Regions from separate parts of the Homo sapiens genome. Here region 2 is reported to be linked to region 1. The links are microRNA targets in miRTarBase. Many come from high-throughput screens and were not tested one by one. Region 1 holds a microRNA gene; the other region holds the end of a gene's coding sequence.

The links. The annotated mature microRNA hsa-miR-3692-3p reads GUUCCACACUGACACUGCAGAAGU and lies in region 1 at 1,432-1,455, shown strand. An mRNA with a match to its seed (bases 2 to 7 or 8) in the 3' UTR can be bound and repressed. Matches are read on the target gene's strand: a 7mer-m8 pairs with bases 2 to 8, a 7mer-A1 pairs with bases 2 to 7 and ends in A, and an 8mer does both.
Region 2: the mRNA of LRRC2 is a reported target of hsa-miR-3692-3p. Seed matches in the 3' UTR shown: 7mer-A1 at 296-302.

What each region holds. Positions count from the first base shown.
Region 1 is chr6:157,527,744-157,532,190 of GRCh38, forward strand. It overlaps MIR3692 (microRNA 3692), which reads left to right and starts at 1,389; the gene lies at 1,389-1,457. The region is part of intron 1 of ZDHHC14 (zDHHC palmitoyltransferase 14); the gene reads left to right. RefSeq lists enhancers at 3,006-3,911, 3,912-4,447.
Region 2 is chr3:46,515,482-46,519,481 of GRCh38, forward strand. LRRC2 (leucine rich repeat containing 2) reads right to left here. Exons shown (of 9, transcript NM_024512.5): 9 at 1-3,582. The coding sequence ends at 3,533. Among named protein-coding and RNA genes, the nearest start is that of RTP3, 20 kb to the left of the region's middle. RefSeq lists a silencer at 1,518-1,812.

The sequences.
Region 1 (4,447 bases):
CGGTCTCTCAGGAAGTTGTTTCTGGAAATGGAAAGACTGTTCTCAGAACTTGACAGTTCTTTAGGGCTCCAGTTATTCTGAATGTTGAAGCCAACTGGACAATGTATGACGCAAGCCTAAGAGGGATAGGGATGTAGCTGTAGGAGGGGCTTTCTGATCCTTCTCTCTCTCCATTGTATCACTCTGCAGTTTCCCTGTTGATTCTCCAACTTTGCCATCTGCTTGGCAAAATTCAAGAAAGGTGGCACTTATTTAATTGATTGTAGCTTTCATGGCAGTCACACCTTCCAAGCCTTCCATCAGGCCAGCCAGGCATGATTTCCTTTGTTTCAGTCCCTCTTGGTGTTCTCTAATTAAATATGCTTTTTCCAGATGTTTCTCCACCGTATTCTTTAAGGTTGTTTCCACCATTTTTCCCTAGATCTAATGTCCATTATTTTGCCTTTTGCCCTTCTCTTTTTAGTAATCAGTTAATAATCGTGTTTGCCATGGGGAAGTCCTCAGGAATACTTCTGTTGTATTTCAAAATGAGCTGAACAGTTTTTTTGTTGTTGTTGTTTTTTAATCTCAGAAGTGTGTGGCTTAAAAGAAAAGTAAAGAAATGATATGAAAGTTTAACCATAGATGAATATACTTGGAAAAGCACAAGTAGATGAAGACTGGGGATGGGAGTGGGCATTAATCAATTAATTTAAAAAGCACGATAGGGTGGGCGCAGTGGCTCACACCTGTAATCCCAGCACTTTGGGAGGCTGAGGCGGGCAGATCACGAGGTCAGGAGATCGAGACCATCCTGGCTAACATGGTGAAACCCTGTCTCTACTAAAAATACAAAGAAATTAGCCAGGCGTGGTGGCAGGTGCCTGTAGTCCCAGCTACTCGGGAGGTTGAGGCAGGAGAATGGCAAAAACCCGGGAGGCGGAGCTTGTAGTGAGCCGAGGTCGCACCACTGCACTCCAGACTGGGCGACAGAGCAAGACTTCATCTCAAAAAAATAAAATAAAATAAAATAAAATAATTAAAAAGCACAATTAGATGAAGACTGGGGGTGAGAGTGGGCATTAATTAATTAATTAAAAAAGCACAATTAGATGAAGACTGGGGGTGGGAGTGGGCATTAATTAATTAATTTAAAAAGCACAATTAGATGAAGACTGGGGGTGGGAGTGGGCATTAATTAATTAATTATAAAAGCATAATTAGATGAAGACTGGGGGTGGGAGTGGGCATTAATTCCTCAACAGCACATGGTATTTTTCAGGTTTCTCCCAATGAGTTCAAAGAGTTTCATTGAAAGTATATCCTTGTAGTTGCTAGTGTCTAGGAGACACACTCAGACTTCCAGTTTTACTCAGCACCTACCACCTGTACTCTTCTGAGGTTCTTTGCCATTCCTGCTGGTCAGGAGTGGATACTGGAGCAATAGATACAGTTCCACACTGACACTGCAGAAGTGGAGATCTCTGGAGTCTCTGCAACCCCACCCTCTCTTCACAGGGAGCAAGTTACTTCTTGAGTATAACCTGGGAATTTTAGAAAGTTTATCTTTTTTCATAAATGAAAGTTTATGTTTTAGCATTGTACTGGTCAGAATCCTCCAGTATTTAAGCAAAACTAACCAGTACGGTCTTTGTTTAGTATACATGTATTTTGCAATAACAGGAGCAGTCATCACCATTTAGTGTCAAGCTTGATTGACAGGGCCCCTGGGAATCTGTGGTTTCTGTTGTGTAGAAACCACAGAGCTTGTTATTCTTCAACTGGAATTGGGAAGCGGAGCCCAAGAGAAATGTTCTTGACCTTCAGTCACTAAGGCGTTACTACCAGACTGCTGGCAATCCATCAATGAGCGACTTTGTCACCCAAGACTCCGAGCTTGTCTTCTCCCCAGACTGGACAAGGCACCTTCACGCAGAATAGTTTCAGGTTTCACTGTGTTCTTAATTACATTTAATGAGGATCATTGAGATCCTTATAAAAAGGTGAAAACAGGTACAGCTGTTATTGTATTCCACTAAGAAAATGTGTAGAGTGCAAAACAGAAGTGTAGGCCTCATTGTGGTACAATTGAGAGACCATGCCTTGGGCCCATGGGCTTTGATGGCGGCCACATCTGATTGACTTCTGGTTATGAAACTTATTAGCTAAACCAGGCTCAAAGTAATGAACCTCTTATAAGTCTTATCAGTCAAATTAATGAACCTTAGTTTCCTCATCTGTGAGATGGTCTCAGTAATACCAATGTCATAGACAATTAGCTGTGTACATTTCTGTAGACATTATATGAAATGTTATATGTGAAACTGCCTGCAATATAGGTACTCAATCAAAAAAATGTGAATTTTCATTTGCTCCCTGCAGTCTTACTATCTGGCTGCCTGTTACTTTGAAAACCATGTGTATGAAACAGTAACAGGCTACCTAAAAAGAAAAAAAGAAAAAAGAAAATGATGTGGGACCACATCTGTGTGTCTAGCAGGCATGGACCTTCCCTCTGGATCTGTTTGTTCTGACCTTGTCTTCTAATTGAGCTGGATAATTACATGGTAGGAACTCTCCCCAACATCAGGGCCGAGAAATGCTGTCACCATGTTTTAATGCAAAGGCACTTTGCCAAGGATAATAGTCGATACCACGGGCATTGTTTTAGGTGAGATAAAGGAATCATCTGTGAATGAATGCTGTGTCCCTTTAGAGAAGGAAAAAATGAATCGGCAGCCCCAACAGCAACCCAATATCCAAAGACTTTCAGTGAATTTCATTTTGTTCATTTTTCTACCAAATATGCACTTTTGAAGCTGTCTTTGCCTGATAGTCTCCAACTTGGTGTCACAGGGCTCGTGGGCTTTAAGCTGTTAACCTTGTTTTATTTCTCCCCTTTTTGGAAATAGAACCATTTTCTCCTGAAATACCTTTGTAGCCTTTTTTCTTTTCTACTCAAAAGCACCTTATTTCCATTTTGCATAATTATTATGTACTATTTTTCAAATTATGATGTCTCTGCTATTGGAAACAACATTGTTTAGTGAGTTTGTGGGTGAAATAGCTTAGCCTTCTGCACTCACATGTGTCTCTGTCTGAACGACTGGATATTTCTAACCTGTATTGGTCCTATATTATCTAATTCCTTGAGGTTTATGATGACGGATATGTTAAAAAAAAAATCTTCAATTCCTCTTTATTCTTAGGGAAACATTGTAAAGCAAAATTTACTTAGAAATTCTTCCTACTTTGCAAAAGAAAGAAGGTGGCCCTTTTTCTCCCCCAGGAGAGAGATCGTTAGCTCAGAGGAGCGCTGTCAGCAGAGGCTGGAGCACACGGAAGTGGGGTCTGCTCAGGTCCCTCTCGGTGTTCATTGCTTCACCTGCATGACGACCTTTGCACCCATCGCTTTGCAGTTCGCCACCAAACGTGGACCCAGATGTCCCGGGTCTGCTCTGATGATTCCACAACATTCAATTCAGCAAATATTTGTCGAGTGCCTATCATGTAGCAGTGTGTGAGGCACTGGGGATGCCACAGTGACTAAACAGCCTACAACGCCCCTGCCCCCCCCGGACATGCCGTTCCAGAGTCCAGTCCAGGGAGGATTACACTGTGCTTCCGCCAGTCACTCGGTGCACCGTCCGAAGGAGGCCTGGAAACATTAGGGTCAGGGAGGGTCTGGGGCTCCCTGTCCTTGCCAACACCCTTCCTCTCTGCAGGTCTCACTCCTGCCTCTGACACCCCCTCCAGAAAGGCTTCACCAACACCCCCCGCTCCGGCCCACTGAGTTGGTTCCCTCCACCGTTCCTCAACACCTGTGTCTCCACACTTGCTCTTTTGTTTGTAGTGTGCTGATTTGCCCCACCCCCCAACCCCCACACTGGAATGTGAGCTGCCAGGAAGCGAGGGTCTTGTCTTGATCTTCCTGCTTTCCTAGCACATGGTGCAGCTTGCTGGCAGGTAGTGTGTATTCAGTGGCTGTGTGCCGAGTGCCTGAATGAAGGCGTGAAGGAGACTCAGTCATCTCCTGCATCCACGGTACTCGTAGACTTGTTCTCCAGCTCTGGAAAAACTTTCCAAGACTCAAATGTGCCTTTTCCCCAAAGGCCTTGAGTTACTGCATCTTCGTAACGCCGAAGACACTTTTCCGTAGCGGTAACATCTGGACTTTGTGCAGTGTGACTGTCCCAGAGGGCCTGGCCTCGTTCTGCGGGATGGGCGTGGGGGTGCCAGCTCCCTGGCAGAGGCCCCAGTCCTGGGTAAAGCTGTGCTCACTGCCTGCCCACCCTGGGTGAGCAATTGAAGCCCTAGTGTGGGGCCCCTGGCCATGGAAGCACTGGGGAAGGAGCCGCTGGGGGAGGAGGAGCAGGCACAGCAGGCGTCTCCTGGTGGCACCAGCAGCCACACCCCTGGGCCACCTCCCAGCAGGCAGCCTGATGGCCCCAGGGCCTTGGGATGGGAG
Region 2 (4,000 bases), not on the chromosome of region 1:
TCTATTTGCATCATGTCAAATTTTCAAATCTCCATATTTTCACAAGATATATATTCTCCTTTGGAATCTTTCTGCACATTTATATGAATAAATTAAATAGTATCTCTACAAACATATTCAAGTAATTATTTGTTTTGGGTTATTATGTAACATGAAATAATTATATATCAATGCAGTATTTTTTTCATATGTGACAGTGAAACAAGGTTTTTAAACAAAAAACTGATTTTATTAAAATAAAATTTACATAAATTATGAACAGTCTATTTGTATGAAAGCCCCTCTTCAGATATATTTTCCACTTGGCCATATGTAACACATACCTTAGCATGACATAAAATTCCAAAATCATTCAAGTAGTAGAGCTAATAAATTTGAATTGTATTTTTAGTGTTAAAAAGAAAAAAATGTAACTATTTAAGATTCAACGAAGGTGATTTCTCATTTTCCTACTCTTTTCATCTCTCTCTCTTTTTTTTTTTTTTTTTTTTTTTTTGAGATGGAGTCTCACTCTGTTGCCCAGGCTGGAGTGCAATGGTGGGATCTCAGCTTACTGCAACCTCTGCTTCCTGGGTTCAAGCAATTCTCCTGCCTCAGCCTCCTGAGTAGCTGGGATTACGGGTGCCCACCACGCCCGGCTAATTTTTTGCATTTTTAATAGAGACAGGGTTTCACTATGTTGTTTAGGCTGGTCTCGAACTCCTGACCTCATGATTCACCCATCTCGGCCTCCCAAAGTGCTGGGATTATAGGCGTGAGTCACCGCGCCCGGCCCTCTTGTCTTCTCTTAGCCTACTTCTCAGAGTTTGTTTCTAAGTGGAAGCAGTCCTCCACCAAAGCACTACCATGTGGTTTTAGAATGCTCTGCCTGTTTTACACCTGTTGAGAATAAAATGTTTGGACTTATGAGTAAGCCCACCAAGACAAAATATTGGGATGTCAATAATAACCTTTTTAAAAATGGCTGGTTCTTCAGACAGAGAAAATAAAAATCACCATACATTTCTACCCCAGATTAACTTCCAAAAAAACAAATAACTAGCTAGACCTGTTCAGGAGTATGGTAGCCACATGTGTGTGGGGTCCCCTAGTTTTCCTCATTTTTGTCTCTGTCCTGACCAAGTAACACATGGTGCCTTGACCCAGCCAGCTGATGTTTTCCTCTGCAGGTCTGAACCCCAGCCTGGGCCTTGAACATTCCTAGGCACTGATAACGGTGCTTAGGTTGTTGCTGGAAACACTGAAAGATCAGCCGTGTTGCTAAACATGTAGAAGCCAGCCCAGCCCCCACCCAAATTCCTTACATCTTCATGTGAACTCCATCCCCCAACCCCCTCGCTGGGGACATGCCCAGGTAGAACATCCCTTGTCTCACTGCCCATCACAAGGACGCTGCAGCCCATGCTGTATGTAAGCTCCCCTCATAAATGCTTTGGACTGATCACCCTGCCATTTAGTGCTTCTTCCTTTAGAATCGCAACTGGCCCCACCTTGGAACGGTTTGGAGCACTCTCTCATGGGAATTTTCCATCAGGTCAAACCCAAGGCTGGAGTTAAATGTGGCTATTTAAATTTAATTGAATTGAAAGATGGGTTCTTCAATCACATCAGTCATTGTTCAAGTGCTCAAGAATCACATGTGTCTGGTTTACCACGTTGGACAACGCAAATACAGAACATTTCCGTCACTGCAGAAAGCTCCACTGGATGGTACTGGGCAAGACCACAGAGGAGATGATTCATATAAAAATATGCCACTATATGCATATTTTCCTTCTTAGTCACAAAAGCTGCTTGTTTTTGTTTTTTTTTTTTTAGTTATAACAATAATAATATTGTTATTGCTGTTTGTTTTGCTTTTGAGACAGGGTCTCACTCTGTCACCCAGGCTGGAGGGCAGTGTCACAATCACAGCACACTGCAGCCTCGACCTCCTGGGCTCAAGTGATTTTCCCACCTCAGCCTCCTGAGTAGCTGGGACCACAGGCACATGCCACCACACCTGGCTAATTTTTTGAATTTTTTTGTGGAGATGGGGTTTCGTCATGATGTCCAAGCTGTTCTCAAAATCCTGTTCTCAAATTCCTGGGCTCAAACAACCTGCTTGCCTCAGCCTCCCATAGTGCTGGGATTATAGGTGTGAGCCACCGTGCCCGGCCAAAGTTATTTGTTTAAGCTTATTTATCTTCAACACCATCAGCCACAACCTGTTTATTTTAGCCCAAGACAGTGGTATAAAAATAAGAGATTGTGTCTAATTTCTCCAAATCATGTGATGTGACATAAGAGCCCAAAGTCTTGTAATGAATCCCACCTCTCCCAAATTCAAACAGCCCATGGGCTCCCTCTGGACTGAAGCATCTTTGCTATGGGCAGAGTTGTCCTGTGGTACCCACAAGGAAGCCTTGCTAGGAACTCCTTATCAGTGTGGACTGGTCATCTCCATTACCCTACATGGCCATCTTGGAGGAAGGGACCCTGAGGGCGTTGCCTTTGCTCTTTACTGAGGTGTGTCCCAGGACCCCCAGGGTGACCACTCAGGACTGGATGGCCATCCATGAAGGCCACTGAAGACTTCCCATGAACAGCCAGGCCCACACTTCCTCAACTAGATCTACCCACGCACCATCTGAGCATCTCATGCCCAAAGCATGGGCAGATATTCCAGCCTTTGTTTCTTCAAGGCCTAGATTGTACCTACAAGTCTCTCCTGGGAGTCTACACTTGCCAAAATATAACTTAAAACATATGGAAATAGCAGTTTATATAAACTCAAGGAAGATTATTCTCAGTAAAAGAAACTCTTTCAAAATAACAAAACACTCTCATCTGATTAGTCCAATATAAATGCTCTTTTCACAATCCCTTTATCTTTTTCTTTTCTTTTTTTTTTTTTTTGAGACAGAGTCTGGCTCTGTCACCCAGGCTGGAGTGCAGTCGCATGATCTCGGCTCACTGCAACTCCACCTCCCAGGTTCAAGCGATTCTCCTGCCTCAGCCTCCTGAGTAGCTAGGATTACAGGCAACTGCCACCATGCCCAGCTAATTTTTTGTATTTTTAGTAGAGATGGGGTTTCGCCATGCTGGCCAAACCAGCCTCGAACTCCGGACCTCAGGTGATCCACCCACTTCGGCCTCCCAAAGTGCTGGGATTACAGGTGTGAGCCACCACACCCGGCCCCTTTATCTTTTGATTCCTGAAAACAATGCACTTAACTTCAGTATTTGGTCTTTTAGTTATAATTCTTAAAAATAAGACATTTTAAAACATATTAAATGTGCATTATTTGGAAAAAAGTATATGCAAATGAACCTGGAAATATCAATATACAAACCAATTTTTCAATTCTCCAGTCCATGGAGGGAGATACTCATGTATTTGACATTTGAAAACCATTTTTTTTAGCAACTATGATAGTGGTTTCTAGACTTTGTCCTTAAGCACAAGCCATTCTTCCTATATGACATGATCATAACAAAGATTTATATATAGCTCCAGAGAATAGTGAGATTTGCAGTCTTCTGATGGATATCAAAGTTGAAGGCTAAAAGACACTTTGGTGGTATAGCTGGGAACAGATTCTGTAACAGAAAGAAAAAAGTATGCTCAATCATTCACCATTTTATTATGAAATCTAGCTACGTGCTATGACATACATAATGAATGTATGTCAATACACCCATTATTGTCACTTCATGTTTTAAGTATAGAGATACTGTATAGGTGATAAATAATGCATTTGTCACCATTAAGTAAGTCATCACAAATGTGCAGTCAAACTTTAGAAATGTTTAGATCTAAGAATCGTTAACTTTCATTCTTTTGCCATCTTTCCAGCCAACTCACAGCTACATCAAGATCTTGGAAGCTATATGACCCTACAGTATTAATAGTTGACAAAATAGAAATAGATGGTCACGGACTTGGGACTGTGGCTAGTAGGTGGCAGAGGGTACCGTTTATAAGAGAAGTTTGGGCTGTTCCTAAACCATACACCAT